Linked DNA regions of Homo sapiens. The protein of the gene in region 2 purifies or fractionates together with the protein of the main gene of each other region. This does not show direct contact. Each region holds a gene or a part of one and is shown on either strand. Other genes may lie near its edges.

Region 1 (7,166 bases), on a different chromosome or scaffold from region 2:
TGGGGCTGGGCACGGTGGCTCACGCCTGTAATCCTAGCACTTTGGGAGGCCGAGATGGGTGGATCACAAGGTCAGGAGATCGAGAACATCCCTGCTAACACGCTGAAACCCTGTCTCTACTAAAAATACAAAAAAATTAGCCAGGGTGTGGTGGCAGGCACCTGTAGTCCCAGCTACTCAGGAGGCTGAGGCAGGAGAATGGCGTGAACTCAGGAGGTGGAGCTTGCAGTGAGCCAAGATTGCACCACTGCACTCCAGCCTGGGTGACAGAGTGAGACTCTGTCTCAAAAAACAAACAAACAAACAAACATTGGGATGACTGGGTTTCTGCACTGTACTGTTTTGTTACACTGCTCATAGCATAATCTATGCTCTCTATAGAGGCAAGAAACACTTGGGTTCCCCTTTCACCTAGATACCTGTAGCGTTTCCTACCATCCCTATTCAGGCACACACAGAATTTACACAGGAAAGAATCAGTGGCAGTGGGATGGCAGGACACTAGTGCAACAGGATTTTTTATTTATATGGCAATAGTTACAGACCGCATACACACACTCAGGAAGGCCCACTAACTGGGCCCACCAAGAGACAATTACCCCCACCCTCAATGCAGAGTCCTTTGGGCTTCCAGGGAACAGGCCTTTTCTTACATGGCTCTGGTCCGAGGTCCAGTACTCAGCATGCGAAGAGCCATATCACGGAGGGGATAAGTGGAGGAGTGTCTTTTCAATTACTTGGGTGTGACCCTGAAGACTCGGATGTGGATGGCTGAGTTGTTGCGGATCCGAGTCAGTGGCTCCCGTGTGTCGGTCTCTGGCTCCAGCTCATCAACAAGCTCCACGGTGGAGGTATTGGCAGCCACCTGCAAGGACCCGAAGCTGCCCGCCTGCAGCTGCAGCGCGATGTTGATGGCGCGGTTGATGGCCAGGCCCAAGCCGTGAATGTAGATCTCAGAGCACGCGTTCTGACCCCGGGCCCCTCCGTCCAGCAGCTTCTGGCAGCGGGCCAGCTGGGCCTTAAAGTCCGTCTTCATGTTGACATAAATGTCATTGGGTCTCCGGGGCAGGCGGCTGGGAAGCCTTTTCCTAAGGGTGTATTCCACTGGATCCAGTTCAGCCTCCACAGCACCGCGGGGCTCTCGGTTTTCTGCCATGCTGTGTGCCCTGGCGTGGGAAAGGGACGCGATCAGAGGGCTCAGAGGGACCTCGAAGCCTTTCCTACCCCTTTTCCTGTACAAAGGGTGCACCTGGCCGGGCAGTGGCTCACGCCTGTAACCTCAGCACTTTGGAAGGTCGAGGCGGGAGGATCACTGGAGCCCGGGTGTTTGAGATCAGCCTGGGCAACATAGCAAGACCCTGTCTTAAGAAAAATTTTTTTAATTACCCGGGCCGAGGGGGGAGGATCGCTTGAGATCGGGAGTTCGAGGCTACAGTGAGCCGTGATCGCGCCCGCCACTGCACTCTAGCTTGGGAAACAGAGCAAGCCTCTGTCTCAAACAAAAACAAAAACAAAAATAAAGGGTGCACCCGAGAAGGGACACACTCGATGTCCCTGTTTCCTTCCGGCCCCTCGTCCTCTCCCACTCACCTCCAGATCCCGCGTCTCCCCACCCCCCGTTCCGATTCATTCATCGCGTCGCCCTCAAACTCGCGCCCCTCCGCCGCCCCTCCCGTGCTTACTCTCTTCGTTCCACAGGGCCCTCCAGGCGCGCGAGGCCCGCTCCCCGCCAGGCCACTCAAGGGTTCGCCGGCCAGCCCAAGTAACCGCGACCCCAGGTCCCAGAGAAAGAAGGATGTGGGTGCAAGCAGCCAGCCAGCTCGTGGGCGCCCTGCCCGCGCCGGGGTCCTGAACGGGCTGCGGAGTGCGCACGCGCGCCCGTACCCCGCGAGCTATGAATCGCCTTCCCGGCTTCCGTTCGCCCCGCCCCTTCCCTGAGCGCAAGGGCGACTGCGCGAGGCGTTTGAGAAACGCGAGACTTCCGGGCGTGACGGGATCTACACGTGTACGCCTCGGGAACTGGCGGGCGGCCGAGGGCGGGAACCAGGTCCGAGCCGGGGAGGAGCTAGAAAGGGCCGGGTCGGCGTCTCTAGGCCTGGCGGAGTTCCCGGCCGGCGGAGGGGTAGCGTAGGGAAGACACCTGGAGGGGAGGCTGTTCTAGGGGCAGGGTTCTTCCCCATGGGAGCAGGGAAGGGGCCGAGTTCAGGAGACCGCGGTCGCCAAGGGGCCTGAACTCCGCGTCCGTCGCAGCTCCTCTGGTCAGAAGAGGCCTGGGCAGGGCTGGCAGAACTGACCCCCTAGTCTAATGTCCCTGTGGCCCGAGGACCGAGGGGGAACTGAGGGACATAGCCGGTCCCCACCTCGCTGGAGGACAGCGTCCCGGGACTCCCCTGCAGTTCACGGGAAGCTGTCCGCCTCCTGTCTGTGCTGGGGACCCACGCTGTGAGCCCTAAGCCCAGGCTTCACGGGTCCCCAAGGAACGCTGACCCACCCACGCCCCTCAACCATCTCCCACCAGCTCTGCAGCAGGCGACCCCGGATCAGGGACTTGCCGCCCCCTGGCGGGCAAGGTGGGGAGGACGCGCGCCGGATTCGTGGCTCTCAGGCCAGTGGAGTGGGGGCTCTGCCCAGATGGGCATAGTTTCTGCAGAGTTCCCTTCTGAAATGAGTAGGACCTGCTGCACTGGGGACCTTGAACTACTCTGTTTGCCCAGCATTCAAATGGGGATGTTCACAACAGCTCCACCATATTGCACATGCATTTTATTGAATGGCTAGCTGTATAGCTTCTGTCTACAAACTTGCATGCATTTATTTTTGAGACAGGGTCTCTGTGGCCCAGGCTGGACTGCAGTGGTGTGATCTCAGCTCACTACAACCTCTGCCTACCGGGTTCAAACGATTCTTGTGCCTCAGCCTCTTGAGTAGCTGGAATTACAGGCGCACGCCACCGCACCCGGCCAGTTTATTTCATTTTTTTGAGACAGGGCCTTACTCTGTCACCCAGGCTGGAGTGCAGTGGCGTTAACACGGCTCACTGCAGCCCTGAACTCCTGGGCTCAAGCAATTCTCCCGCCCCAGCCACCTGAACAGCTTGGACTACGGGCATGCACTAGCATATAAAGTTGTATTTTAGAAGTTAATCCTTGGTATTGAAATTTTCGATATGTTGGCCGGGCGCGGTGGCTCACGCCTGTAATCCCAGCACTTTGGGAGGCTGAGACGAGCGGATCACGAGGTCAGGAGATCGAGACCATCCTGGCTAACACGGTGAAACCCCGCCTCTACTAAAAATACAAAAAATTAGCCGGGCATGGTGGCAGGCGCCTGTAGTCCCAGCTACTCGGGAGGCTGAGGCAGGAGAATGGCGTGAACCCACGAGGCGGAGCTTGCAGAGAGCCAAGATCGCGCCACTGCACTCCAGCCTGGGGGACAGAGCCAGACTCCATCTCAAAAAAAAAAAAAAAGAAATTTTCGAAATGTTCACATAATTGTTGGGAGCGATTCATTCCTCCTCACATGATGTGCCTCCTCTCTCCCATATCCTGTTAATTGTAGCAGTTGCGGGCATTTGCGATGACAGGATATACGGATGGTGCCACACTTGACCTTGAGTACTGGAATGCTCTGAGGTCAAGCATATGCCACAGTGCTTGAGACTGTGGGCATCACCTGTAGTGTCTTTTTCTCCAACTCCTGTCTCCTTGGTCCTAGGGAGGTCTGGCTCTAATTGCTAGTTTCCAGAGATTCATTCCTTTTTTTTTTTTTGAGACGGAGTCTCGCTCCGTTGCCCAGGCTGGAGTGCAGAGGCACGATCTCAGCTTACCGCAACCTCTGCCTCTGAGGTTAAAGCGATTCTCCTGCCTCAGCCTCCTGAGTAGCTGGGATTACAGGTGTGCACCACCACGCCCGGCTAATTTTTGTATTTTCAGTAGAGATGGGGTTTCACCATGTTGGCCAGGCTGGTCTCAAACTCCTGATCTCAAGTGATCCTCCTACCTTGGCCTCCTAAAGTGCTGGGATGACAGGCTTGAGCTATTGTGCCCAGCCTCATTTTTAAGCTTTGGATCACAGGAAGAAGCAACAAGAAACTATACCCAACTCAAAACATTTTAGGAGAATCATAAAATTGGTCCATTTAGAAGGTAGAGTTGGGTCCATTAAGTTATTGTTGCAAGAGGTTGCATATTCAATGATCAGTTATATAAAATAATGTTCTCGTTAGTATGCTTTTCATAATCTGTTTTATCATACATGTAACATTCAAACTGACAAATACACTGACTTGGGAATAAAGGATATGAAAACACTGGTTTAAAAAAAATGGGGATGCTAATTCCTTTCTTGCAGTTGAGTTGTGAAACCCAAGGTAATGTTGTAAACTGTAAACCTACACAGGTGAGTTGGCATATTTATGTCTCCCAGGCCCTTCTCAGTTCCCTAGGATGGAGTCTGACCCCATTTGATCAAAGGTTGAAGAGAGTTCAGATTCTAGAGAAATTTGCTCCCAGCACCCCATTTCAATCCCATAGTTCTTTCCTTTACTTCAGATTCTTTCATTAACCACAAGATTGGGATTGAATTGGAAGATCCAACATATTATAGTAAAGATACCAATTCTCTTCAAATTAATCTATAGGGGCCAAGCATGGTGGCTCACGCCTTTAATCCCAGCACTTTGGAGGCCAAGGTGGGCAGATCACTTGAGGTCAGGATTTCAAGACCAGCCTGGCCAACATGGTGAAACCCCGTCTCTGCTAAAAATACAAAATTAGCCGGGTGTGGTGGCACGTGCCTGGTACTAATCCCAGCTACTCAGGAGACTGAGGCAGGAGAATAGGTGGAACCCAGGAGGCAGAGGTTGCAGTGAGCTAAGATCACACCACTGCATTCCAGCCTAGGCAACAGAGCGAACTCCGTCTCAAACAACAACAACAAAAACCCAAATTGATCTATAGGCGTAATGCAATTCCTACAAAAATCCCAGCAGTTTTTTTGTATTAAATATAGATGTTTATTCTAAACTTTATATGGAAAGGCAAAAGAAGTAGAATAGTTAAAACCACTTTGAAAAAGTTGTTGGAATCACACTACCTGATTTTAAGACTTACTATATAAATAAAGTTATCAAGAAAGTATGGTTTCCCCAGTGGGATAGACACAAAAATCAATAAGATGGAATTGAGAGCTCAGAAATAGATTCACACAAGTGCAGCCAACTATCTCTCTTTAAAAAATAATTTTTTGTTTGTTTATAAGACAGTGTCTCACTTTGTCACCCAGGCTTGGAGTGCAGTGGCACAATCTTGGCTCACTGCAGCCTCAACCTCATGGGCTCAAGTCATCTTCCCGCCTCAGCCTCCCAAGTAGTTGGGACTATCAGCACGCGCCACCATACCCGGCTAATTTTGTTTTATTTTTTGTAGAGACGAGGTCTTACTACGTTGACCAGGCTGATCTCGAACTCCTAGACTCAAGCAATCCTCCTGCCTCAGCTCCCTCAAAGTGCTGAGATTACAGGCGTGAGCCACTGCCAAACAACTTGTTTTTGACAAAGGTATAAAAGCGTTTCAATGGGGAAAGGATGATCCTTTCAAGTGGTGGTGAAACAATTGGACAAATAGGCAAAGAAATGAGCCTCAGCCCTATGCAAAAAGTTAATACAAAATGGATAGTAGATTTAGGAAAAAACTTCATGGTGTAGGGTCAGGTGAAGAGTTTTGTTTTTTTGTTTGTTTGTTTTTTTGAGATGGAGTCTCACTCTGTCGCCCAAGCTGGAGTGCAGTGGCGCGATCTCGGCTCACTTCAACCTCTGCCTCCCGGGTTTAAGAGATTCTCCTGCCTTAGCCTCCTGAGTAGCTGGGATTACAGGCACATGCCACCATGCCCAGCTAAAGGCGAAGAGTTCTTAGACATGACTCCAAAAGCACAATCCATAAAAGAAAAACAATTGGGCTGGGCACGGTGGCTTATGCCTGTAATCCCAGCACTTTGGGAAGCTGAGGTGGGTGGATCACCTGAGGTTAGGAGTTCAAGACCAGCCTGGCCAACATGGTGAAACCCCGTCTCTACTAAAAATACAAAAAATTAGCCGGGCGTGGTGGCATGCGCCTGTTATCCCAGCTACTCAGGAGGCTGAGGCAGGAGAATCGCTTGAATCCGGGAGGCGGAGGTTGCAGTGAGCTGAGATTGCGCCATTGCACTCCAGCTTGGGCACCAAGAGTAAAACTCCGTCTCAAAAAAAAAAAATGATAAATTGGACTTCATCAAAATGTTTAAACATTTGCTGTGTGAAAGATCACATTAATAAGATGAAAAGAGTAGCCACAGACTGGAAGAAAATATTTGCAAATCATATATCCAACAAAGGACTTGTTTCCAGCATATATAAAGCACTCTCTAAGCTCGAGAGGTAGAAACCGAACAACCCAATTAGAAAATGGGCAAATCCAGCCTGGGCAACATGGTGAGATCCTGTCTCTACAAAAAATTTAAAAATTAGCCAGGCCTGGTGGTCTGTGCCTACAGTCCTAGCTACTCAGGAGGCTGGGGTAGGAGGATTGCTTGAGCCCAGGAGGACAGCACTGCAATGAACTGTGATCATACCACTGCACTCCAGCCTGGGTGACAAAGTGAGGGTCTGAGAAAGAAAGAGAGAGGAAGGAAAGGAAGAAAAAGGGAAGGAAGGAAGGAAGAGAGGAGAGAAAGAGAGAAAGAAAAAACAGAAAAAAGGAAGGAAGGAGGGAGGGAAGGAAGGAAGCAAGCAAGCAAGCAAGCGGTGGCTCTTGCCTGTAATCCCAGCACTTTGGGAAGCTGAGGTGGGTGGATCACCTGAAGTTGGGAGTTTGAGACCAGCCTGGCCAACACGGTGAAACCCCGTCTCCACTAAAAATACAAAAATTAGCTGGGCGTGGTGGCGGGCGCCTGTTAATCCCATCTACTCGGGAAGCTGAGACTTGAAAATCGCTTAAACTTGGAAGGCAGAGGTTGCAGTGAGCCAGGATCACACTATTGTACTCCAGCCTGGGCGACAGAGCAAGACTGTCTCAAAAAAAAAAAAAAAAGAAAAGAAAAAGAAAATGGGCAAATCTTAAACGGACATTTCAGTGAAAGAGAGTATAAGAATGGTAAATAAGCACATCATAAGATGTTCAATATCACTAGCC
Region 2 (7,329 bases):
GACAGAGCTGAGACTGTCTCAAAAGAAAAAAAAAAAAAAAAGATCACGAAAGGGTATGAGGTAGATACTACTTGCATTGAGACCTGAAGGCTGAGTAGGGTAAGAAGAAGAGCATTTCTGAAAGTTGAATAGCCTATATAGAAGCCGGAAAGAGTAGATGTGAAAATGTGGAAGATAGGATGCTTGGGGAAAGTGAAAGGACTCTTACTACATCACTAAAACTCCTGTTGCTTTCTTTAACTTCCTACCTACCTTTGCTACAGAAAATCCCTGTGATCTCTGACCTATGTTCATTTTCTAGGATTCCTTCCAGGTGATACAGCCAGGCATCACCGAGCTGTTATCCTAGACCTGCTGCAGGAGGCACTAACAGAGTCTGGATTAACCTCCCAGGATATCGACTGCATTGCATACACCAAGGGTATGGCTGGGAGAGTGGTCAACGATGGAGGAATATACCTGCAACCTGGCTAGGTCAAAATAGCCAACACCTTACCTCTGCCACCATCACTACCCCTACCCCACCTCACATCCCTTATGTCCCCCACTATTGTTTTTTTCCAATCTCTAGGATTATAACTTCCATTTCTATCTCCCTAGGCCCTGGCATGGGTGCCCCACTGGTTTCTGTGGCTGTTGTGGCCCGTACTGTGGCCCAACTGTGGAATAAGCCATTGGTGGGTGTGAACCACTGTATAGGCCACATTGAGATGGGCCGCCTCATCACTGGAGCCACCAGCCCAACCGTGTTGTATGTGAGTGGAGGAAATACGCAGGTATTTAGAGGGCTCTACCCACTCCATCTCAATTTCTGAGGCACTGAACCAGTATTTTCTTTGTTCTATCTGAGTCATGGGAATGTCAGGAACAAAGATGGACTTATCTGAACCTAAAATACTGTAGACCAGAAAACCCCCAACAGAGTTTGTAACATTGCAAATTTTGGCAGCATGATCAGAACATTAGATGGCTTATCATTATCAGACTTTATATCTGATTATAAAGATTAGGAATTTCTACTTCAGGAAAGGAATGAATGGGATTGAAAAGGATTGAAATCTTCAAAATAATGAATATCTGAAAGCTCTTGCATTATTTTGAAGCTTATTTTTTCTATAAATCTTAGCAATTGAAACTAACAGTTGCTGGGTATGGCAACTCATGCCTGTAATTCCAGCACTTTGGGAGGTCGAGGCGGGTGGATCATCTGAGGTCAGGAGTTTGAGCCCAGCCTGGCCAACGTGGCAAAACCCCATCTGTACTAAAAATAACAAAAATTAATTTGATGTGGTGGCAGGTGCCTGTAATCCTAGCAACTCCGGAGGCTGGGCAGGAGAATCACTTGAACCCAGGAGGCGGAAGTTGCGGTGAACCGAGATCGCACCATTGCATTCCAGCCTGGGCAACAAGAGCAAAACTCCGTCTCAAACAAACAAACAAACAAAAAACAAAAAAAAACAACTAAAGGACACTACCTGATTTATTATTTTGGGGCAAGTACATGTTTTGTTTTTATATTACTGGGAATGATTATGTAGACTTTGTTATTCTAAGAGTTTAGAAATATAAATAACTTTAAAAAATACTTTGTAAATTATAGAAGGTATTTTATTTTATCTTATTTATTTATTTATTTATTTGAGATGGAGTTTCGCTCTTATTGTCCAGGTTGGAGTGCAATGATGCAACCTTGGCTCATTGCAACCTCTGCCTCCCGGGTCCAAACTATTCTTCTCTACTCCCGAGTAGCTGGGATTACAGGCACCCGCCACCATACCTGGCTAATTTTTTGTGTTTTTAGTAGAGACGGGATTTCACCCTGTTGGTCAGGCTGGTCTTGAACTCCTGACCTCAGGTGATCCACCTGCCTCGGCCTCCCTAAGTGCTGGGATTACAGGCGTGAGCCACCATGCCCGGCCAGAAGGTATTTTAAATTTATAGGTGAAGCTAAAGTTGTTTGGGTTACCTTATATGACCTTTTTAAGGTTGGGATTGGATTCTTTTCCAACAGAACACTTGATTATCATTAGAAATAGTTCAGCATTGTCCCCAGCTCATGAAAGGGTTGTGTCGAGAAGATGAGGCACATGTTTCCCATGAAAATGATGCAGAAACTTCAGCAGGTAGAGGGCAAGTAGTTGGTTGAGGCCTGAAGGATGACATACAAGGTCAGAGACTTGGGTTGTGGAAAGTATAATGGAGGCTACAAGAGTTGATGAAAGGAGCAGTGACGGTTTTGTCTTCCTCTTCTCTTTTAATGTTTGCTTAGGTGTAAGAAACAGGGAGGGTGATTAGGTGGAGAGGAGTGGATAGCAGAAGCAGAAAGGCAGGATTTTTCCTTCGCCTTTGTTACTGTCTTTTTGACAGCAGATTAAGATCTGTATCAGAAAGGGAAGAAATCCCTAACAGCACTGGGAAGGGAAAGGGACTTCTTAAGGTTCGTAGGAAGCCCTCGGTGTTATAAGTCTGCAGAATATGTGTCAGTAAGGGACAGATATTCTCTGTGCTAAAAGTTGGTCACATATGAAGAACGGCCTTAATACAAAAAAGTGGTGGTGGGTGCCTGTAATTCCAGCTGCTTGGGAGGCTGAGGCAGGAGAATTGCTTGAACCTGGGAGGCAGAGGTTGCAGTGAGCTGAGATCACGCCATTGCACTCCAGCCTAGGCGACAGAACAAGACTCTGTCTCAGAAAAAAAAAAAAAAGAAAAGAAAAATGGCCTTAAGTGAATTGCCATTGCTGACTTGGCTGGGCCATTAGTCTGACTCCATATGAGATTTTTGAGTTCTTCAGCTCTGCTTCTTGGTTCTAAATACCACTGCCCAGCTGCATACGGTGGTTCACACCTATAATCCCAGCACTTTGAGAGGCTGAGGCAGGTAGATTGCTTGAGACCAGGAGTTTGAGACCAGGCTGGGCAACATAGTGAGACCCCCATCTCTACAAAAATATAAAAATAAGCCACACATGGTAGCCCAGCTACTCAGGAAGCTGAGGTGGGAGGATCCTTTGAGCCTAGGAGGTGGAGGCTACAGTGAGCTATGATCACACCACTCCACTCCAGCCTGGGAGACAGAGCGAGACCCTGTCTCAAAAAAAAATTACCACTGCCACTGTGTCATAATTTAGAAGGATTCATGTTCTCTGCCTCCAAGCAGAAAAGCCGGTTACCTACTATCAAGACTGCATTTAAGGGATATATTAGGAACTTCTAAGCCGGAAAACCAATGTATTTGAAATGACAATTTATTTCTGCCTGAACCTACACTGTCTAGGAATCTGTTCCTGGAATCCTCAGGGTATACAGATTTCTTCTCAAATCAGAGCTGTAAAAACTACCCATTCACCATTTGGGAAACACCTTTCTTCCACTTCTTATTGGAAGCCCTGGTGGTCATGTTGATCCTCTGCTATGTTTTTCTCCCAAAGCCAAATAATCCTCTTTACAGACTTGGGGTTTCATGGACTTCCTCATCACCCTTAGGTGATTGCATACTCGGAACATCGTTACCGTATCTTTGGGGAAACCATCGATATTGCAGTGGGTAATTGTCTGGATCGTTTTGCTCGAGTGCTGAAGGTAAGCCAGTGGGGCTGCAGAGAACATAAAATGTGGGTGAATTTTTGGGAAGCCATGGAGGTGGAGGGAGGAAATAGTAAATGAGCTTCTTATGCTTCCTGCATATCTGATTTCATCCTCTTCCATTCCCTCCTTCCTTATTTTTTTCTTCTGCTAGATTTCTAACGACCCAAGTCCAGGATACAACATTGAACAGATGGCAAAGCGGTAAGGGGACATAAGGTGGAAGCAGGCTGGCTGCTGGGGCTTCAGGGATTTCCCCATATACGGTATATATTAACAAAATTTGGGACGGGCTTTGGAGGGTGAGAAGCCAGCTGACTGTAGGCTTAGTGCCTCGTACGCTTATTCCCACATAGAGGCAAGAAGCTAGTTGAGCTGCCATACACTGTAAAGGGGATGGACGTCTCATTCTCAGGGATCCTGTCTTTCATTGAGGTGAGTGTGAGAGGTGATGAGACGGGCACTTTCATGCTTTTTAAATGAAGCATATCTGTTTTACTTACGATTATATTTCGTATAGCTCAGTATATTCATGTAGCACAGTACTGGTCCATATCATGTGCTGGGTAAATTCATTTAGAAGGTATTCATTGAATATCTCTGTGTGCCACATGCTGTTCTAGATAGTAGAGATGCAGCATGGAGCAAAACAAAAATCCCTGTCTACATGGAGCTTAGATTCTAAATGGGGGGCGGGGGAGATAAGAAAGAGGAAAATAATGAAGTGCCAGATGATGATGAGTACAGGTGAAAAATTAAGCAGGATAAGTAAGGGGTGAGAGATGTCAGGACAAGTATTCAAAAAGTAATGATTGCATCTTAAATGAAAGCTGCTCATTCTATGCCATGATGCCAGTGAAGGGAATGTGGTACAGGATGTGCTGGTAACTTGAATTGTGGTGAAACATGATGACCCTCCGAATGCATTAATTTTTGCTCTCGTGTAATCCCAAAACCATGATTTGTTGATTCTTTTGTTTTTCCCTTTAATTGTAGGATGTAGCCCATCGGATGCTGGCCACAGGCGAGTGTACTCCTGAGGATCTGTGTTTCTCCCTGCAGGTAATGCAGTAAAAAACTGGGACAGAAAGTTGGGGCTGAAGGTTTTATATTGTAGAGCAGAACTAATCTGGGATGCCCCTCTAATATTTTCTCCTTATCTGTCCCTGACAGGAAACTGTGTTTGCAATGCTGGTAGAGATCACAGAGCGAGCCATGGCACATTGTGGCTCCCAGGAGGCCCTCATTGTGGGAGGAGTGGGGTGTATGTATTATTGAAAAGTGTTCCTCTTTCCTATTCTTAACACTATGCGTCTTCCTCCTGGTACTCTAAATCATTAAGCGTTTGGAGTAGGCTTCCCAATCCTTGCCCCTAATCCCCTATGTCATTGTTCTAAGTGAGTGCACATGACGTGTTCTGCTGGACCATGAAGAGATGGCTAAAACTAAGCTAATCCTGTTCCCTGCCTCTTTGTAGGTAATGTGAGGCTACAGGAGATGATGGCAACAATGTGCCAGGAACGTGGAGCCCGGCTTTTTGCTACAGATGAGAGGTAAAGACACTTTCCCTTTGGTTTCTTTTTTACTTCTCCTGTTATAGTGATTTTCCACCCTTAGATCCCAATTTTCATCTCTCTTGCATCCCAGATTCTGTATTGACAATGGAGCGATGATAGCCCAGGCTGGCTGGGAGATGTTTCGGGCTGGACACAGGACCCCACTCAGTGATTCTGGGGTTACACAGAGGTGAGTGATTCACCTCTTGGTGAGGGTAGATTATTGGGACATAGACAAAAACAGCAGGGAAGAGTCCAGGAACATGAGGGCAGAGAAGAATGAAGGATGTTAAGGGCTCGCTCTCCACCATGTTTCTTCTGTTTTTCCACAGGTATCGGACAGATGAAGTAGAGGTGACCTGGAGGGACTAATAAGATCAACAGAATCAGAGTAGATAGTTCCTTAATCGGAACCCAAAGGACCCCGTGCCTCAATCTCTATCCTGATGTCATGGGAGTCCTAGCAAAGCTATAGACTCCAAGCAAGGCTTGGGGTCCTTTATGGAACCCCAGGATGACTCAGCAATAAAATATTTTTGGTTTTTTGGTTTTGTATGTTGGTGATTGGATTGTGTTGTTCAGGACCAATGTAGATTTGGTGCTGGATAAATTCTTGTTGGAGCTTGCTGCTGTGGAACCAAGAATGAGGTATCTTTTTTTTTTTTTTTAAGAAACGGAATCTTGCTGTGTTTCCCAGGCTGGTCTCGAACTGGGCTCAAGCAGTCTTACCACCTCAGCCTCCTGAGTAAGGATGCCATTGTGCCTGGCAACAATAGTAGTATCATAACTATTATTATAGCATCGGGTCCCGTGCTAACTGCTTTACATTCATTCTCTCATTTAAATTCTTTGAAGTAGGTGTGCAAGACTTCTCTCAAAATAGCCTGGAGGCTCACACCTGTTATCCCAGTGCTGTGGGAGGCCAAGTCAGGAGGATCCCTTGAGCCCAGGAGTTTGAGCCCAGCCTGGGCAAATAGCAAGACACCATCTATTTGAAAAATGTAAAAATTATCTGGGCATGGTGGCGCACATCTGTAGTCCCAGCTCCAAGGGAGGCTGAGGCGGGAAGATAGCTTGAGCCCAGGAGTTTGAGGTTGCAGTGAGCTGTGATTGAGCCACTGCATTCCAGCCTGAGTGACAGAACAAAACCTTGTCTCTTAAAAACAAACAAACAAACAGCCTGGAGATTGGTCTAACTTGTAACTCTAAAACTGCCTCTACTCCGTATACTTTCTCCTACATGCACATCCATCGGCAGGCTTGAGGAATGCCCGCAGATGCACATCCCTCCGTACCACAAACAACAGAACGAATCTCATACCCTTAATCTTATTGATGTTGATATCAATCATCACAATTAGTCCTAAACTACTGAGTCATCTCATCTTTTACACTTAATAACCATGTATCTCCACTCTGTTTTGTCTCCATCTACCTACCTTTTCCAACTCTAGAAGCTCTTCCACTGTGCCCTCTGGAACTGATGGCCAGTCATTTGTCAAATTCTCTGTGTCCTCAACCTCTTCTCTGAACGTTCCCTTCACATTTATGCTCTTCAGACTTGGTTTCTTATGAGGACTCTGCTTCTCCTACCACCTCAGTAGTGGTGGCATTTTCCCTTCCACACCCAGTGTCCCACTGGGCCTGGAGGTGGTGCACGTGTCCTCATACTGTTTCCAGACCATTATCCCTCATCCCTAGTACCCTTCTGCTTTGAAAGAAACTACCATACGAACACCACGTTTGTCATAAATCTTATTTCAGTATTCAGGTAGATCATACTAACACCCGCTTCAGCCACTTATTTCCTTGGTCATGTTCTGGAGCTGCAGATCCTCCACATCTCAGTTTCAGACGTCCCACTCTCGACTACCACCACCTCCTGTTCTTCCAGTTCATTTTCTTTAGTATGCTAAATCCAACAGTTCATCCCTTCACCAGGACCTACGGTCCATTGATCATACTTCCTTTCTGCAGATTTTATCCCCCACGTATTTTTATTTCCCTCCTTCAGCTAAATTCCCATAATCCACCTCATTTCCCTTCCCCTCTTTTGCTTTTGTCATATTCAACTCATCACCTACTTTAGACCCATGCAGCTGAAAGGGCTAGTAAAAAATAGCCATGCTGACTGATCTTACTTCAAACTTACGACCATGACACTAAAATGGGTCCTTTATGCCACCCAGAA
Region 3 (7,132 bases), on a different chromosome or scaffold from region 2:
GCCGAGATTGCACCATTGCACTCCAGCCTGGATAGCAAAAGCGAAACTCCGTCTCAAAAAAAAAAAAAAAGGGCGTGCTTTCCTCATTACAGTCAGTTGTAGGTTATGGTCAGCCAAAGACCATGCACTTGTAATCGGGGTTTATGTGTTTTTGCATTTTCCAAGTTTCCTGTTTTTGAGGGTTTGTCTGTGGCTCCAAAGTTCTTTTGCTTATTCATTTATTCAGAAATATTTACTGAATGCCTACCATGTGGTAGGCATTCTTCTAGGTGTTAGGACGTGTAACAGTGAGCAGAACGAAATGTCGAAACGCATAGAGCAAATATTCTAATAGTTAAAAAAATAGATAATGTATCAGTAAGAGTCCAATTAGAATGTCAGAAACTACCTTAGATGTAGAAGGAATTGGTCTCACATGTGTTAGAAGGGCTGGGAAAACAAAAGGTAATAGGAGGGGTGCTGGGAGAACAAATAGGAAGAAAAGGGAAAACCCAGAAATAGTAATTGTTAGTACCCCTGCTACTTGACTGTTGAAAATGCTGTAAAAGTTTGTTCTGAATTAGGAGAAAAGGCGCTCCCTCAACCAGGCTGAAACTACCACCAGTGTTGTTGCCAGAAACCTGGAGCAGGAAGGAGCTGCTTCTCCCTTCCGCCTTCCAGTCACCCACCATTAATACCTGCTATTGGCAAGGCCCATCTGGATGGCAGATGGCAAAGCAGCCTGGAAAGTGGAGTTTACCAACTTCTACCTCCTACAGTATATAGTGGAGCACAGCAAAGTGGAAAAGGAGGCCGGGCGCGGTGGCTCACACCTGTAATCCCAGCAATTTGGGAGGCCGAGGTGGGCAGATGACCTGAGGCCAGGAGTTCAAGACCAGCCTGGTCCAACATGGTGAAACCCTGTGTCTACTAAAAATACAAAAATTAGCTGAACGTGGTGGTGGGTGCCTGTAATCCCAGCTACTCTGGAGGCTGAGGCAGGAGAATTGCTTGAACCCGGGAGTTGGAGGTTGCAGTGAGCCAAGGTCACGCCACTGCACTCCAGCCTGGGCAACAGAGCAAGACTCCATCTCAAAAAAAAAGAAAAAGGAAAATAACATGGCCAAATACACTGCTAATTACCATGAAGAAGAATACAGCAGAGTAGGAGGATAAAGAATAAAGACAGGGGTGAGGGGAGCTACTCTAGTGAGAGTCAGAAGAGGCCACTTGGCAGAAGGAACATTTGAGCAGAGACTTAAGAGAAGTGAAGGCATAAGTGACATGAAAGCATTCCAGGCAGAGGAAACAGCAAATGCTGAGGGCCTGAGACAGGCAGAGAACTGCAAGGACACCACGGTTGGAGCTCAGGCAGCAGGGTACAGTGGTGGGAGATAAGGACTGGTGGCTGAGGAGCCCTGGGACTTTGTAGCCCATGATAAGGACTTTAGACTTATGGGAGGGGGAGGAGAAAAGTGGAAAACAGGGAGATGAGGAAGGAGTCTTATCACAGTGGCTTGAATAATGTGTTAATCTTTACAGCGTCCAAGAGCAATGTAAAATGTAGGGGCAGTAAAAGATAAACAGAAAAACTAAGGGGAAAAAAATTCTAAAACTTCTTCAGAAAAATTCTGGAGCGGAGAGCATGTGTGGAGCATGCATGCATGTCCATGCTATAACTTCATCTACAGAGAAACAAACAGTTTCATCTAAGGATTAACTAAGTATGTACTTCGTTTTTACTTCCTTCCTCCCCTAACCGCACAGTCTTGAACTTGCAAGTTTACTTTTAAGGAACCTTGGTTAGACTGGAAATAAAACTTTATTCTGTGTCTACTATTGCAAGGCACAGTATTAGACACTGTGAAAAAGTAAAACATATAAAATATGCATCCTGCTCTTAAGACATATTTAGTCATGGACAGAGGCATGGATAGTTCAATTAGGATATAAGAATTGTTATAAAGTAGTAAATTAATGGTACATACAAGTGCTGAGGGTTCAAGGAAAGAGAAAAACATGAAGTAGAGGTTGTCTTCAAAGTTTTCTTAGAGAAGGAAGTTCAGCCATATTTTAAAGGATCAGCAAGATTTTAAATGTACTAATCTTTAAGCTTCAAGACATAGGGACTTGGCACAGAGCACTTAGCACAGAGCCTGGCACATAGTAGGTACTCAGTCATTTGTTGAGTGAATTAAATTTGTACTTATTTGATATGACAGCAAGTTGAGAGGAAAGTAAGTTGCGAATAATGACTAAAATTGAAATATACTGCCTCTGCCTCACTTTATTCTATAGTAAGTACAGTGCGCTGTTAGAGATAAAACCTTATAATCTAGTAGTGTTCTAATCTGCTTGTAAGAACATTTATCTAAAAAGCATAAGAATGAAAGATTTGAGGTAAGGCGATTATATTTTAAGAAATATAGTAACAAATATATATTTAGAAATATATTTCTAGAAATGTTCATCTAGAAATATGTCTAGAAATTCTTTCTCATGATCATTTTATTTTGTTATTACCCAAGAGTTTATATTTCCATGTATTACCTACATTTTTGGTTTCTTTTTTTTCTTTCCTTATTCAACTTGTATGCTGGCCGTTTTGCTACCTTTCTGAGACTTTCCATTAAAAGATGAACAGAAAGTCAGTTGAAATCACCTGCTTTTCCTGAAGACTTCGAGTTTGGTATCCATATTATCCCATGGAAATTTGAATATTTAATATCACTGAATAAGCCTTTGGTCCAAAGTGGTGATGTATAATAATGGAATTATTAGCCTATTATTCTGAGAATTAAACACATTGATATCATCACCTTTCTAAATATCAGTAGAAGTTTGAATGTTTACTAATATAAAAATCATCTTGAAAGATTTCTTCCTTTTCTTTTTTTCTCCCAGGAGGAAGAAGCAGTACTTTTTTGTCTCATAGCATTAGTAACCAAGCTAATGTTCACCAGTCTGTCATTAGCTCCTGGCTCAGCACTGATCCTGCAAAAGACCGAATTGAAATCACAAGCTTACTTCCCAGTAGGTCTCTGTCTGTGAACACTTTGGATGTTTTAGGTCCTTGTCTTGTTTGTGGAACCGATGCAGAAGCAATTTATGTTACTAGACATCTTTTTTCGTAGAAGTACTATAATTATAAGATTTCAGATAGAACATGCAATTAGCCTTTTGAAATCCAACTTCTGTGCAAAATTTTAGTATCAGAAAATACGAGATTTGCAGGGGAAACATCAGTAAACTACCATTAATGTCAATGCCCAGTTTTGACTTTTGTTAGCCTGACACTCCCAAACAGTTGTAGAATCCGATAGATGACTGATGGCAAAAGATTGTGAACATGTGGAAGAAAATCAGTGGGATTCTGGTGCTGATGAATAGGTTGCCTTCAGAGTATTATTGACAGACAGCTTGTGGAACTAATTCTTTATTTTTGATGTTGTGGGAATTAACACATCAATGGTGGTTATGGGAACTACCAATGGGTTCCTACAATTTTTATCAGTAGTATGTGGCATATACACCTTCCTAGTGGCAGTTGCCAATGTTAATGATTATTCTTTTTATTGCAAGTATTTCCTATGATCCTTCCACACTTTATTTCCTTAATAATAATAAACTTTTTCAGAAAGAATTGAGTAGAGCAAAAATGACAAAGATGTGTAGCTGTGTTCAATTTTTTTTTTTTTTTTTTTTTGAGGCAGAGTCTTGCTCTGCTGGAGTGCGGTGGTGCAATCTCGGCTCACTGCAACCTCCACCTCCCAGGTTCAAGCAATTCTCCTGCCTCAGTCTCCTGAGTAGCTGGAACTACAGGTGTGCGCCACCACGCCCAGCTAATTTTTGTAATTTTAGTAGAGACAGAGTTTCACCATGTTGGCCAGGATGGTCTCGATCTCTTGACCTCATGATCCACCCGCCTCGACCTCCCAAAGTGCTGTGATTACAGGTGTGAGCCACTGCACCCGGCCTGAAATTTTTTTAAGGTGAAAATGTTTTGACAAGTTCCTTTTTCAGAATAGGTTTTTGAGCAGAACTCTTTCAGCTTGTTAGACCCAACTTTGCTTTTGTTTAGCTTCACAGCATAGCTGAAAGTTGCCAAACTGGACATTGTGCAATAAAGTAGAATTCTATATTGATAAGCAAACTATTTCCAAACTAAAAATGTGATAGATAAAAGTGTGATTAATCAAATGATATGATCAGAGTAAAGAATTTTGCCATTTTGATCCTTTTACTTTGTTTTAGCCACCTATAGTGTTACCAACCATCTTTATCCTTGTCTGCAGGGATAATAATGAACTAATGTAGTGTTTTAAGATAATTTAATGATACTATCTTTCCAAACTTTGTTAGATTTTAAATGTATTATTGACCTGAGACCTTAATGACAAATCACTGCTATTAGACAATTGAAGTGTTCATTTACTTTGTAATTCCAATAATCATAGTTATGGAATTATGGTAAGGTTTTGCTTTTCTGTCCTAATAAATATATATATTTTTTGAGATGGAGTTTTGCTCTTGTTGCTGAGGCTGGAGTGAAATGGCATGATCTCAGCTCACTGCAACCTCCGTCTCTTAGGTTCAAGCAATTCTCCTGCCTCAGCCTCCCGAGTAGCTGGGATTACAGGTGCTCACCACCACACCCAGCTAATTTTTGTATTTTTAGTAGAGATGGGGTTTCACTGTGTTGGCCAGGCTGGTCTTGAACTGACCTCATGATCCACCTGCCTCAGCCTCCCAAAATGCTGGGATTACAGGCTTGAGCCACTGCTCCCGGCTGATTTTTGTATTAGTAGAGACGACAGGGTTTCACCATGTTGGCCAGGGCTGGTCTCGAACTCCTGACCACAGGTAATCAGCCCGCCTCGGCCTCCCAAAGTGCTGGGATTACAGGCGTGAGCCACTTAGTATTTGTAACCATAAGAGAAAGTATATTTTAACAGCATTACATTTCATGCCAATTGACAAGTTTTGCCAATTTTAATAAGAAACTAAGCTTTATGTAATGTAACACCGTAATTTATGAATTTGTTCATTGTCACTGCCTTTATTCATGAAACTGTCAAATAGAGTGTCTTTCAAGGGTTGCAGGATCTTAGAGATAGAAAGTACCTTGGTGATCATCTCCAGCCTAAATTTCATCATCCCTTCTATGGTATTCCCAACAAATTATCATCCAACCTATACTTAAAAACATATGGTGGCCAGGCATGGTGGCTCACGCCTGTAATGCTAGCACTTTGGGAGGCCGAGGTGGGTGAAGCACCTGAGGTCAAGAGTTCGAGATCAGCCTGGCCAACATGGCGAAACCCCGTCTCCACTAAAAATGCAAAAAAAAAATTAACCGGGCGTGGTGGCAGGCATCTATAATCCCAGCTACTTGGGAGGCTGAGGCAGGAGAATTGCTCAAACCCGGGAGGCAGAGGTTGCAGTGACCCAAGATCGTGCCACTTCACTCCAGCCTGGGCAAAAGAGCAAAACGCCATCTCAAAAAATATACATATATAAGGAGATAAAGTTTCCCATTTTCCAATACAGTTTCACATTTGAACAGCCCTAATTGATACAACTTTATGGCAGGGTTTTAGTGTGTGAGTGGGATCCAAAACACTCAATCCTGTAAAAGGGTACAGTCCTATTGTATGTTAACACACTGATGATGTGAGCCTGTGAGATGAGCCAATCACCAGTTGTTATGTTCGAATCTGCTTTGTGTTGGGACGCTTTAATGTCAGGGTTTCACTAAATAAATGAATTTTCATATACTGAACTGAAATTTGCTTCTATCTGTCTTATCTCGGGAGCCACACACACAAAATTCCTCTCATCACATATTCAAATATTCAAAATTGATTATTATAGTCTCTCCAGTGAAGGTTTCCTTCTCTTTCTTTCCATTTTTGGCTAAATCCTTCTTATCCTTCAAGACTCCTTCTAGGTGTCATTTTCTCCAGACAGCTTTTATTGGCCTCCAGCAATCCGGACTAAATTGCACTCTGCTTCAAAAGCCCATTGTGCAGAACTTAAATTGTGCGCAAAGCAGTGTGTTAAGGAGCCTGTCTCCCCCTACTGGGCCACAAGATCAAGAACAGCGCCCATGTCTTCGTGTAACAGTGTTTAACAGTATCTGAACCATAGTAAGCAATGAGTCACTGTTAATTGACCTTGTTTTCACAATCTTGTTTTCCCTTTAAAAATTACTGCTCTTTGTCAAAGGCCTTTTTTTTTTTTTTTGAGACTTTAAGTCTCGCTCTGTCGCCCAGGCAGGAGTGCAATGGCACGATCTCAGCTCACTGCAACCTCTGCCTCCCAGGTTCAAGCAATTCTCCTGTTTCAGCCTCCCGAGTAGCAGGGATTACAGGTGTGCGCCCAGCTAATTTTTTGTATTTTTAGTAGAGACAGGGTTTCACCATGTTGGCCAGGCTGGTCTTGAACTCCTGACCTCAAGTGATCCACCCTCCTCCACCTCCGAAAGTGCTGGGATTATAGGCATGAGCCACCGTGCTCGGCCAGAGGCCTTCTTTTAAGTGTGACTTCCAAGATAAACACTTTTTCATATATTGTCTACCTTGGTGATTATGACAGAAATCTTGCCATCCTGTTAATAGGAATGATATTCCTTTGTAATGCTGTGTCAGCTTTCTGAAGTGTTCACATGTGATACTCCTAAGCCACACTTCCTATATTCGGAAGTTAATACAAATGGTTTTTAATCCTTAATATGGGCCTTTCTTGTTCTAAGAAAAATTTCATTTCAATATAGGAAAGGACTAACTATTTTCTTTGAATCTTTTGTAGAAGCTATTATTTTCTCCATAATTAGCCCAGCGTGCTCTCTCCACTTTCATCCCATTGATTAAGAAAGATGTTTGAGACAGGATTTCACTCTGTCACCCAGGCTGGAGTGCAGTGGTGTGATCCCCAGCTCACTACAGCCTCGATATCCTGGGCCCAAGTGATCCTTCCACCTCGGTCTCCCAAGTATCTGGGACTGCAGGCATGTACCACCAAGCCTGACTAATTTTTGCAATTTTTATTGAGATGGTGTTTCACTATATTGCCCAGGCTGGTCTTGAACTCCTGGGCTCAAGCAATCTACTTGCCTTGGCCTCCCGAAGTGCTAGGATTACAGGCAAGAGCC
Region 4 (9,072 bases), on a different chromosome or scaffold from region 2:
TAGGAGGAAACTTAAGAGCTTCATCAGTGTAGCATTTAGTTGGTTTACAGTTTTCACTTGATGCTAATTTTGCTTTTTAATTACAAAGTAGCTTCAGATTTACCATTTTGATTTGATGTATGTTGTAAACCTGTGTTCTGTACTTGAAAAATGCATTTATTGCAAAAGCAGATGCATATGTAATTCTCACAAAATTTGCTGGTATAATGACAAGTGTGGCCAGGCGAGGTGGTTCACACTTTGGGAGGCCAAGGCAGGAGGCAGGAGGATCACTTGAAGTCAGGAATTTGACCCCACCCTGGGCAACATAGCAAGACCCTGTTTCTTAAAAAATAATAATAATTAGTTTGGTGTGGTGCTGTGCACCTGTAGTCCCAGCTAGTTGGGAGGCTGAGGCAGGAGGATCGCTTGAGCCTAGGTTGAGGCTGCAGTGAGCTATGATTTATGCCACTGCACTCCAGCCTGGGTGACAGCAAGACCCTGTCTTTTAAATAAGTGTGTTGTCACTGTGAATTTTGTGTTTATGTGGTGTTAGTACTGAATTTTAAGCATTTTTTTCAGTATTTCCCTATCAATATCTATATGATCTGTGGCAGGGTCCCTTTTTATTACCAATATTGGTAATTTGTGTTTTCTTTTTTTTCCTTGATTAGTCTTTCTAAAGGGTTAGAAATTGAGTTAATTTTTTAAAGAGCCAATTTTTTACATTATTTTCTCCATTGTTTTCTGGTTTTTTGTTTGGTTTTGGTTTTGGATTTTTTTTTTTTTTTTTTCTTTTTGAGACGGAATCTGGCTCTGTTGCCCAGGCTGGAGTGCAATGGTGCGATCTCGGCTCACTGCAACCTCCACCTCCCGGGTTCAAGTGATTCTCCTGCCTCAGCCTCCCGAGTAGCTGTGATTACAGGCATGCGCCACCATGTCTGGCTAATTTGTTTTGTATTTTTAGTAGAGACGGGGTTTCACCATGTTGGCCAGGGTGGTCTCAAACTCCTGACCTTGTGATCCGCCCACCGGGGCCTCCCAAAGTGCTGGGATTACAGGCATGAGCCACCGTGCCCGGTTTGTTTTGTTTTATTGGTTTCTGCTCTGAAGTATTTCCTTTCTGTTACTTATTTAATTTCCTCCTTTCCCCCAGCTTTGTAACACTTTTCCTCCAATGTAAATGTAAATATTTAAATTTTCCTCTAAGTGCTGCTTTAGCTGTAGCCCACCGTGGAAACTAAAGCCAATTTTGAGCATTTTAAACAACTTGTAATATATAAAGGAAGTATCATAAAACTGCTGGGATATTGTTTTATGAGACATTGTTTTATAATGTAAAATCATGTCCATAATCTCACTGCAAATTGTTCATTTTGTTTCACTCCAGTTTTGTTTTTTTTTTTTTTTTATCGCTGAGCTCTTTTTTAAAAAAATTATAAAAATAGAGGTGGGGGTCTCACTGTGTTGCCCAGGCTGGTCTTGAACGCCTGGCCTCAATCAGTCCTCCCACCTCAGCCTCCCAGACTGCTGGGATTACAGGCATGAGCCACCATGACCAGCCACTGAGCTATGTTTGAGAGCAACTACTTAAAAGTGCTCCAGTAGCCAACTGAAGAAACGTTAATACAATGACATGACATTTTTCCCCCCTAGAAACGGGTCTCACTATGTGGCCCAGGCTGACCTCGAACTCCTGGGCTCAAGCACTTTTCCTGCCCAAGCCTCCTGGAGTAGCTGGGACTATAGACATGCAACACCATGCCCCGCTTAAAATGACATATCTGGCCGGACACGGTGGCTCACACCTGTAATCCCAGCACTTTGGGATGCCAAGGCGGGCGGATCACGAGGTCAGTTCGAGACCAGCCTGGCCAACATAGTGAAACCCCGTGTCTACTAAAAATACAAAAATTAGCTGGGTATGGTGGCATGTGCCTGTAGTCCCAGCTACTCGGGAGGCTGAGGCGGGAGAATCGCTTGAACCCAGGAGGCGGTGGTTGCAGTGAGCTGAGACCGCACTGTTGTACTCCAGGCTGGGCGACAGAGCAAGACTCTGTCTCAAGAAAAAAAAAAAAAATGACAACGCATCTTGTCTTACATTGGTGGAACTTTTTAAAATGTTGTAAATGTTGTAAATGTTTAAAATCCAATGTTGGTATTATTGAGAGGAAAACATGATTTGACAACATGTATTAAGAGGCTTAGACCGGGTGCAGTGGCTCACGCCCCTAATCCCAACATTTTGCCAGGCTGAGGTGGGAGGATTGCTTAACCCAGGAGTTCAAGACCAGCCTGGGAAACATGGCGAAACCCGTCTCTACAAAAAATTAGCCGGACGTGGTGATGCGCACCTGTAGTCCCAGCTACTCGGGAGGCTGAGGTGGGTGGATCCCTTGACCCCAGGAGGCGGAGGTTGCAGTGGGCTGAGATCACGCCACTGCACTCCCGAGTGACAGAGTGAGACCCTGTCTCAAAAAATAAAAAGGCCTTAAAAGTGTTTATTCTCTTATACCTAGTAATATGATGCTGAGCAGTTTTAAACACATAAAGTGCACGAAAGATTTATGTATGAGGATATTATTATTTTTTTTTTTTTTTGAGACGGAGTCTCGCTCCGTCGCCCAGGATGGAGTGCAATGGCGCGATCTCGGCTCACTGTAAGCTCCGCCTCCTGGGTTCACACCATTCTGCTTCAGCCTCCCGAGTAGCTGGGACTCTAGGTGCCCGCCACCATGCCCGGCTAATTTTTTTGTATTCTTAGTACAGACGGGGTTTCACCGTGTTAGCCAGGATGGTCTCGATCTCCTGACCTTGTGATCCGCCTGCCTCGGCCTCCCAAAGTGCTGGGATTACAGGCGTGAGCCACCGCGCCCGGCCGAGGATATTCTTTAAAACAAGGAAATGGTCACTTAAAGTGAAAAAGGCAATTTACAAAGTACATTTTTTTTTTTCTTTTTTGAGACAGTATTGCTCTGTCATGCAGGCTGGAGTGCAGTGGTGCGATCTCGGCTCACTGCAAACTCCATCTCCCAGGTTCAAGCGATTCTCCTACCTCAGCCTCCTAGGAGCTGGGATTACAGGCGCTAGCCACCACGCACGGCTAATTTTTGTCTTTTTAGTAGAGATGGGGTTTCACCATGTTATCCAGGCGGGTCTCAAACTCCTGAACTCAAGTAAGCCACCTCCATCGGCCTCCCCAAATGCTCGGATTACAGGCGTGAGCCACCACACCCTACCAAATACTATATTTCAGAAGAATTCAGGGAGTGGAAATGCACATACCAAAGAGGGCAGTTGTGGATCCAATAGCCCTGCCTCCAATTCTCACAATTTCCAGATTCAATCTTAATTCCCATTCCCTCATCCCAAGAGAAGTAGAGAAAGACCAGTAGAGCTGGAATAATGACAGGTGGAAATAACTCAGAAGCCACTCAAGGCAAAAAGCATGCAGAGGGGCCTAAGGGAGCCAATAGGATTCCAATTCTGGTTACAGAAAAATCCAAGTCAAAATCACTCTTTGACAATCTAAAGGAATGAGATATTAATTATGTTCCCCTGGGGTTGTGAAAAACAGCCCTGCCTTTTGGAGATTAGAAGTGAAGCAGGTAAGAACCATATCTAAAGCAGGAGAAGAAGCTTCCCTCAGTAGGTGGTTGATAGGGGTCTGGGAATCATCCAAGTTAATCAGGGTGACTATAGATAATCCGAGTGTGTTATATCCTGACAGAAAACAAAGGGTGGATGTGCATTGGCAAAAACAAAATAAGAAACCAATTTGCAGGCATGAGTGGACCAGTACCCAGGACTCTCTTCCAGTAGCCTACAGTAGATAGAGGGCTCTGACTTATCGGAGAAGTCCTGCTTGGCTGGAGAAGGGCATCAAGCTGTTTATCAGCGCCTCATGCCCTTAACAGTTAAGACCATCCAACTAACCTGGCTGTTACTCCATGAATCTCGTGCAGCTTTCTGAAAATCATGGGGTCTCTGCGGACTTTCCTGCAGAAAGAGAGCCCACTGATTCCACTACCTAGATAAAGGCGTGGTGGTGGGCCCCTGTAATCCCAACTACTCGGTGTAAGAATTAAAGAAAGAGGAAAGAAACACGAAAAGTGGCTTGGTGGTCATAAGAGGTTTATTTTAGAGAAAACCTGAGAGGGGCGTCTGGCCAAGTTAGGTCAGAGGCACACTCTCTTACAGACTAAGTAAGTTTTTAAGGATTCGGAGTGGGAGAGTTTATCAGAGGCTTGGACTGCTTCTGTGTCTCTTTGTTGTGCTTATCTCGGAGGGAGAGTTGTGTGTCTGTTCCCATACATCTTTCTGCAGCTGCAGACATACCCCCTGAGTCTAATTTTTGTATTTTTAGTAGAGAGGGGTTTCACCATGTTGGCCAGGCTGGTCTCGAACTCCTGACCTCAGGTGATCCTCCCGCCTCGGTCTCCCAAATTTCTGGGATTACAGGCGTGAGCCATCTGCGCCCTGCCTAAACTGTTCGGGTTCTAACATTCCAGCATCCTCCTGCGGAACGCAGCCAGGCCTTACTCAGGCCTTCCAATCAGGACCCTTACAGTTCCTGGGGCTGGGATTGCGAGTCTCTCTGGGGCCACGCTTTCTAAGCGTATCACTTCCAGGATACGTGCCTCCAACAGAAGGAATGAAGGCTAGGAAACAAAAACGTGGATGCGGGTGAGGAGCTGTCAGTGTTACCGCCACGACAACGTGGACCCTGCGAAACTCGGAGGTGCCACTCAAGAGCCGAAAGCCTGCCCACTCGGGGTGGGGCGGCAACCCGGAGAGCCAATCAGGAATAAGGAGTCCGGTTCATGAAAAGGTAGCCGGATTCTGACTGGGATACTCACTGTGAGAAGGCTGGGCGGAGTTGCAGAAAGTCAACAGAAGCCGAATCTCTGAATTTCTGTTCGCAGCCTCCTAGGCGGGGCCGGGAAAAAAATCCAGTAGTCTGCGCTGACTGGGCGGCGAGGGACCGGGAGGAGCCAATCAGAAGTCAGGACTCGCGGGGCTTGGAGGAGGGGCGCGGGCGCTGCGGCCCCTGCTCTACCTCCTAGCGCCGGTGCGCGGCCGAGGCCGCACTACCTGTCTGCGGGAAAGCGGGATCCACCCCAGGACGTCGGGTCGCTGCCGGTGAGCCAAGGAGGGGGAAGCAGAGACGAGCCCTGCGTCCCCGCTGCGGGAGTCGGGGTCGCCCCCGAGGGCAGGGAGGCTCGCTGCAAGTGTGGAGCCGGGAGTCCTATGCCTCAGGCTCCTCCAGCCCGCGCTATCCTCAGCTCGCTGCGTGCGTGATGGGCAAGTCACCCTTCTTCCCGGACCTCACCTGTAACCTAGGAGGGCTGAGCTGGGCCCCCAGAATGAAAGCGTGGCACCCGAGAAGCTGTCGAGGCCAGCCCTCCCGGGTCTGTGTGGGGTCGCTGGCCGAGGGCTGTGCCGGCGCCTGGCCGGTGTCTACTGGGAGCAGTCTCTGAGCTCCGCTGAACCTCACTTACTCATGCGCCCTCCTCCTCTCTTTTCCTGCCTCTTGGTTCAGCAGCCCCTCTGCAGCCCGCTCACCCACCACTTTTTCCCCTTCACCCACCAGGAAGACCCTTAAAAGCACCTAGTAATGCACTGTTGTCTTTGAAAAACTGCAGATGCTAGATTCCCCACCTTTCTGTTTCATGATCCCCTTGGGGTTGAACTGCCCCGTGAGTCTGTGGAATGAAGGTCACCCTTGGTTCACCATTTAATATTAAATAAGGGACTAGCCTAGGGGCTGAGAATACAGAGATTGACTGGGTATAATCCCTTGGAAGGACGCAGCAAAAGGGAATGTAGGAGAAGAAAGGTAGAGTTGGAAGACATGCTAAGGTAGAATTTACTAGACTTTGTTACACGTTGGGAGTGAGGGACAGGAAAGAATCAAGAATGACTCCTGTTTCTTGTCTGGTATACTTTGCACAAAGTACAGAGCTTAAGTTCCAGCCCCCTCCCGGCTGCAGGACAAAGGTGGTGAGATTCTGACGCAGATCTTGGAGTTGGAAATCACACTTGCTTCCTGCGGGCTTTTTCAGGAGCTAAATACTGTTGGCCGGATATATAGACCAACAGCCTATAGTACCTGAATTCCTCCTCTCCCTTTCAATGAAGTAGGAAAAAAAGTTAATAATTTTTAAAAATGTGTGAGTGGGCAACATAGCGAGACACTGTCTCTAAAAAAATAAAAATAATAAAATCAAAAAGACAGCCATGATGGCTTGCACCTGTAATCCCAGCACTTTGGGAGACCAAGGTAGGAGGATTGCTTGAGCCCAGAAGTTCGAGACCAGCCTGGGCAACATAGTGGGACCCTCTCTCTCCAAAAAAAAAAAAAAAAAAAAGGCCAGGCATGGTGGCACCTGCCTGCAGTCCCAGCTATTTGGGAAGCTCAGGTGGGAGGATCCCTTGAGCCCAGGAGTTGGAAGCTGCAGTAAGCAGTGATTGTGCCACTGTACTCCAGACTGGGTGACAGAGACCTTGTCTCAAAAACAAAAAAAAAAAAATTCCCCTCCATACAAAGGAGACATTTGGTTAAGACAGACATGTCTGATAAACATATTTTTTTCTTTGTTTTTATTTACTCTCAAGAGTTGACTTGATCTGTGCCATTAGTTCTATGATATGGAGCGCTTATATAAAGAAAAAAGGCGAACTTAAAGAACTTTAGTGGCATGGAATACTAGAGCTAGAGGAGACTTTTAGTAATAATCTAATCCAACTCTGTTTTAGAGGAGACATGACTAGTCCAGAGTTTCAGAGGTTAGGTAGCAGAACTGGGACTAAAATATGTCCTATTTCTCCCAGCACAGCCTTTTATTACATCAGTCTATTTGGATGGCCAGAGCTAACAACCTTGCTTTACATGGCTATGGAAAACAGCGCTCTCCTAAGAGGAGCTTAACAAGTCAAAGATTGTATGGGAACATCTGGAATAGAAAGGAGATTGGCCTTCACCAGTTGCCTCTAAGGTTCCTTACAACTTTAAGAACTTATCATTCATTTCAAATTCAGAATTGTTCTGACATCGTTAACGCTTTGGGAGTTGAAAATGACTCCAGGATTTCATCTTGGAGTTAATGCTTCAGTCCATATTGCATTTTGAATACTTACCTTATACCAGTTTACATATCTCCAGAAAGAATGTTAAAATTCCTTGTAAAGTTTTAAGCCTAAATACAGTGTGACAGGATATGTTGGTTCCCAGAAGTTTCAAGTGCAAAGATTGTTTTGAAACTCCATTTAGGCTTTGTCACAGTACCTTCAGTGAACAAAATCTGAACGGCTTAACTTGCTTCTGAAAGCAAATGCCTGGTTAGAAAGTAAACAGGAAACATGATTGTCAAGAAGGCATTAACTTGCAGTAACAGGTGATGGAAACCGATCAGTGGCACAAGCTATGCAAGTTAAGAGGCTGGAGCAATCACTTTGGGTAGGAGGATCAGGGAAGGCCATGGCAGGGGCTAGGGGGTGGTTAGCGTTTGAGGGTTACCTCTCCCTTATTTTCTCTTCTCTTTTTTTTTCTTTCTTTCTTTTCTTTCTTTCTCTCTCTCTCTTTCTTCTTTCTTTTCTTTCTTTCTTTCTTTCTTCTTTCTCTTGCTCTCTCTTCTCTCTTTTCTTTCTTTTCTTTACTTTTCTTTCTTTTTGATGGAATTTTGGTCTTTCGCCCAGGTTGGAGTGAAGTGACGCAGTCTCATCTCACTGCAACCTCCACCCCTCTGGGTTCCAGTGATTCTCCTGCCGCAGCCTCCTGAGTAGCTGGAATTATAGGCGCCGGCCACCATGCCCGGCTAATTTTTTTTTTATTTTTATTTTTATTTTTAGTAGAGATGGGGTTTCGCCATGTTGGCCAGGCTGGTCTCAAACTCCTGACCTCAGGTGATCCACCCACCTCAGCCTCCCAAAGTGGTGGGATTACAGGCGTGAACCACTGTCTTTACCTACCCTTATTTTAACTTGAGTCATCAGGCCATAGTCCTAGGACTGAGGCAGGGAGGGGGTCATATAGGAGATTTCTGGTATATCTCCCTGAATGTTATCCCCTTTCCCTCACTGGAGTTAGGTGGGTTTTTGCTATGATACAGCCAAATAAATTAGGCATTAACAGGCATATGGTCTGATTTTTAGAGTTCCAAGAAAGTCCTAAGATCCACCTCCTCTGTCCTAGCCAATTTCTCAGAAGCGCTCTTTCTTTTTTAGAGGTAAATTTTACATTCAGTGATATTCACAGATCTTACTAGTTTACTTAGGTTTTAAGTTAAGTTTTGACAAATGTAAGCCATGTCGCCAAAGCCTAATCAAGATGTAGAACACTTGCCTCTCAGAAAGTTCTCTCATGCCCCTTCCCTGTCAGAAGCAATACATCTTCCACTTTCCACAAAAGCTAACTCTTCATGAGATTCTTTTTTTTTTTTTTTTTTTTTTTTTTAAATAGAGAAGCGGGTCTCATTATGTTGCCCAGACTAGTCTCGAACTCCTAGCCTTGAGTGTTCTCCCACCTTGGCTTCCCAAAGTGCTGGCTGGGATTACAGGTATGAGCCACTGTGCCCAGCCCATAAGATTATTTTTATATAGTACTGTATCCCCTGAACAGCAATCAAAACATACCCTAAAATGCAGCTCACCCTCACGATGTTATCAATTATTTACAACTTAGTATGAAAGAAGGATTAGAATAAAACTATTTTGGGAAAACAGCATGAGATTCTAACGACCTTAAATATTTGGTTCCTGAAGCATGTTCAGAAGACCTACATTGTCTTTCATATGTAGCTGGATGCTCAGAAAATATACCAGGTGTGGGTAGCAGAGGGTGGAATTACCAAGAGAAAGAAAACAGTCTCCTCCCCCGCCCATGTATCCAAATCATACTTAAAAATTCAAGGCCCAGCGTGGTGGCTCATGCCTGTAATCCCAGCACTTTGGGATTACAAAGCAGAGGCAGGCAGATCACTTAAGCCCAGAAATTCAAGACCAGCCTGGCCAACATGGTGAAAGCCTGTCTCTGCAAAAAATACAAAAAATTAGCCTGATATGGTGGCTTCTGTAGTCCCAGCCACCTAGGAG

The links.
Region 1: the proteins of OSGEP (region 2) and POP7 purify together in Homo sapiens (affinity purification with mass spectrometry; 4 studies listed by BioGRID and IntAct, with this or other methods). This does not show direct contact.
Region 3: the proteins of OSGEP (region 2) and NUP43 purify together in Homo sapiens (affinity purification with mass spectrometry; 4 studies listed by BioGRID and IntAct, with this or other methods). This does not show direct contact.
Region 4: the proteins of OSGEP (region 2) and HYKK purify together in Homo sapiens (affinity purification with mass spectrometry; 3 studies listed by BioGRID and IntAct, with this or other methods). This does not show direct contact.

What each region holds. Positions count from the first base shown.
Region 1 is NC_000007.14:100,700,821-100,707,986, reverse strand, and holds POP7 (ribonuclease P protein subunit p20), read right to left. Parts: upstream 1,867-7,166; 5' UTR 1,683-1,866; intron 1,167-1,682; 5' UTR 1,157-1,166; coding exon 734-1,156; 3' UTR 501-733; downstream 1-500. UniProt on the Homo sapiens protein: Component of ribonuclease P, a ribonucleoprotein complex that generates mature tRNA molecules by cleaving their 5'-ends. Also a component of the MRP ribonuclease complex, which cleaves pre-rRNA sequences.
Region 2 is NC_000014.9:20,445,421-20,452,749, reverse strand, and holds the end of OSGEP (tRNA N6-adenosine threonylcarbamoyltransferase), read left to right. Parts: intron 1-301; coding exon 302-421; intron 422-600; coding exon 601-776; intron 777-3,483; coding exon 3,484-3,579; intron 3,580-3,736; coding exon 3,737-3,786; intron 3,787-3,938; coding exon 3,939-4,017; intron 4,018-4,578; coding exon 4,579-4,644; intron 4,645-4,755; coding exon 4,756-4,846; intron 4,847-5,059; coding exon 5,060-5,135; intron 5,136-5,229; coding exon 5,230-5,328; intron 5,329-5,470; coding exon 5,471-5,510; 3' UTR 5,511-6,349; downstream 6,350-7,329. UniProt on the Homo sapiens protein: Component of the EKC/KEOPS complex that is required for the formation of a threonylcarbamoyl group on adenosine at position 37 (t(6)A37) in tRNAs that read codons beginning with adenine.
Region 3 is NC_000006.12:149,722,950-149,730,081, reverse strand, and holds the end of NUP43 (nucleoporin Nup43), read left to right. Parts: exon of another isoform or gene 1-563; coding exon of another isoform or gene 564-592; exon of another isoform or gene 593-1,521; coding exon of another isoform or gene 1,522-1,562; exon of another isoform or gene 1,563-1,602; intron 1,603-1,603; coding exon of another isoform or gene 1,604-1,692; exon of another isoform or gene 1,693-2,883; coding exon 2,884-3,113; 3' UTR 3,114-5,767; downstream 5,768-7,132. UniProt on the Homo sapiens protein: Component of the Nup107-160 subcomplex of the nuclear pore complex (NPC). The Nup107-160 subcomplex is required for the assembly of a functional NPC.
Region 4 is NC_000015.10:78,502,551-78,511,622, forward strand, and holds the start of HYKK (hydroxylysine kinase), read left to right. Parts: upstream 1-5,026; 5' UTR 5,027-5,121; intron 5,122-9,072.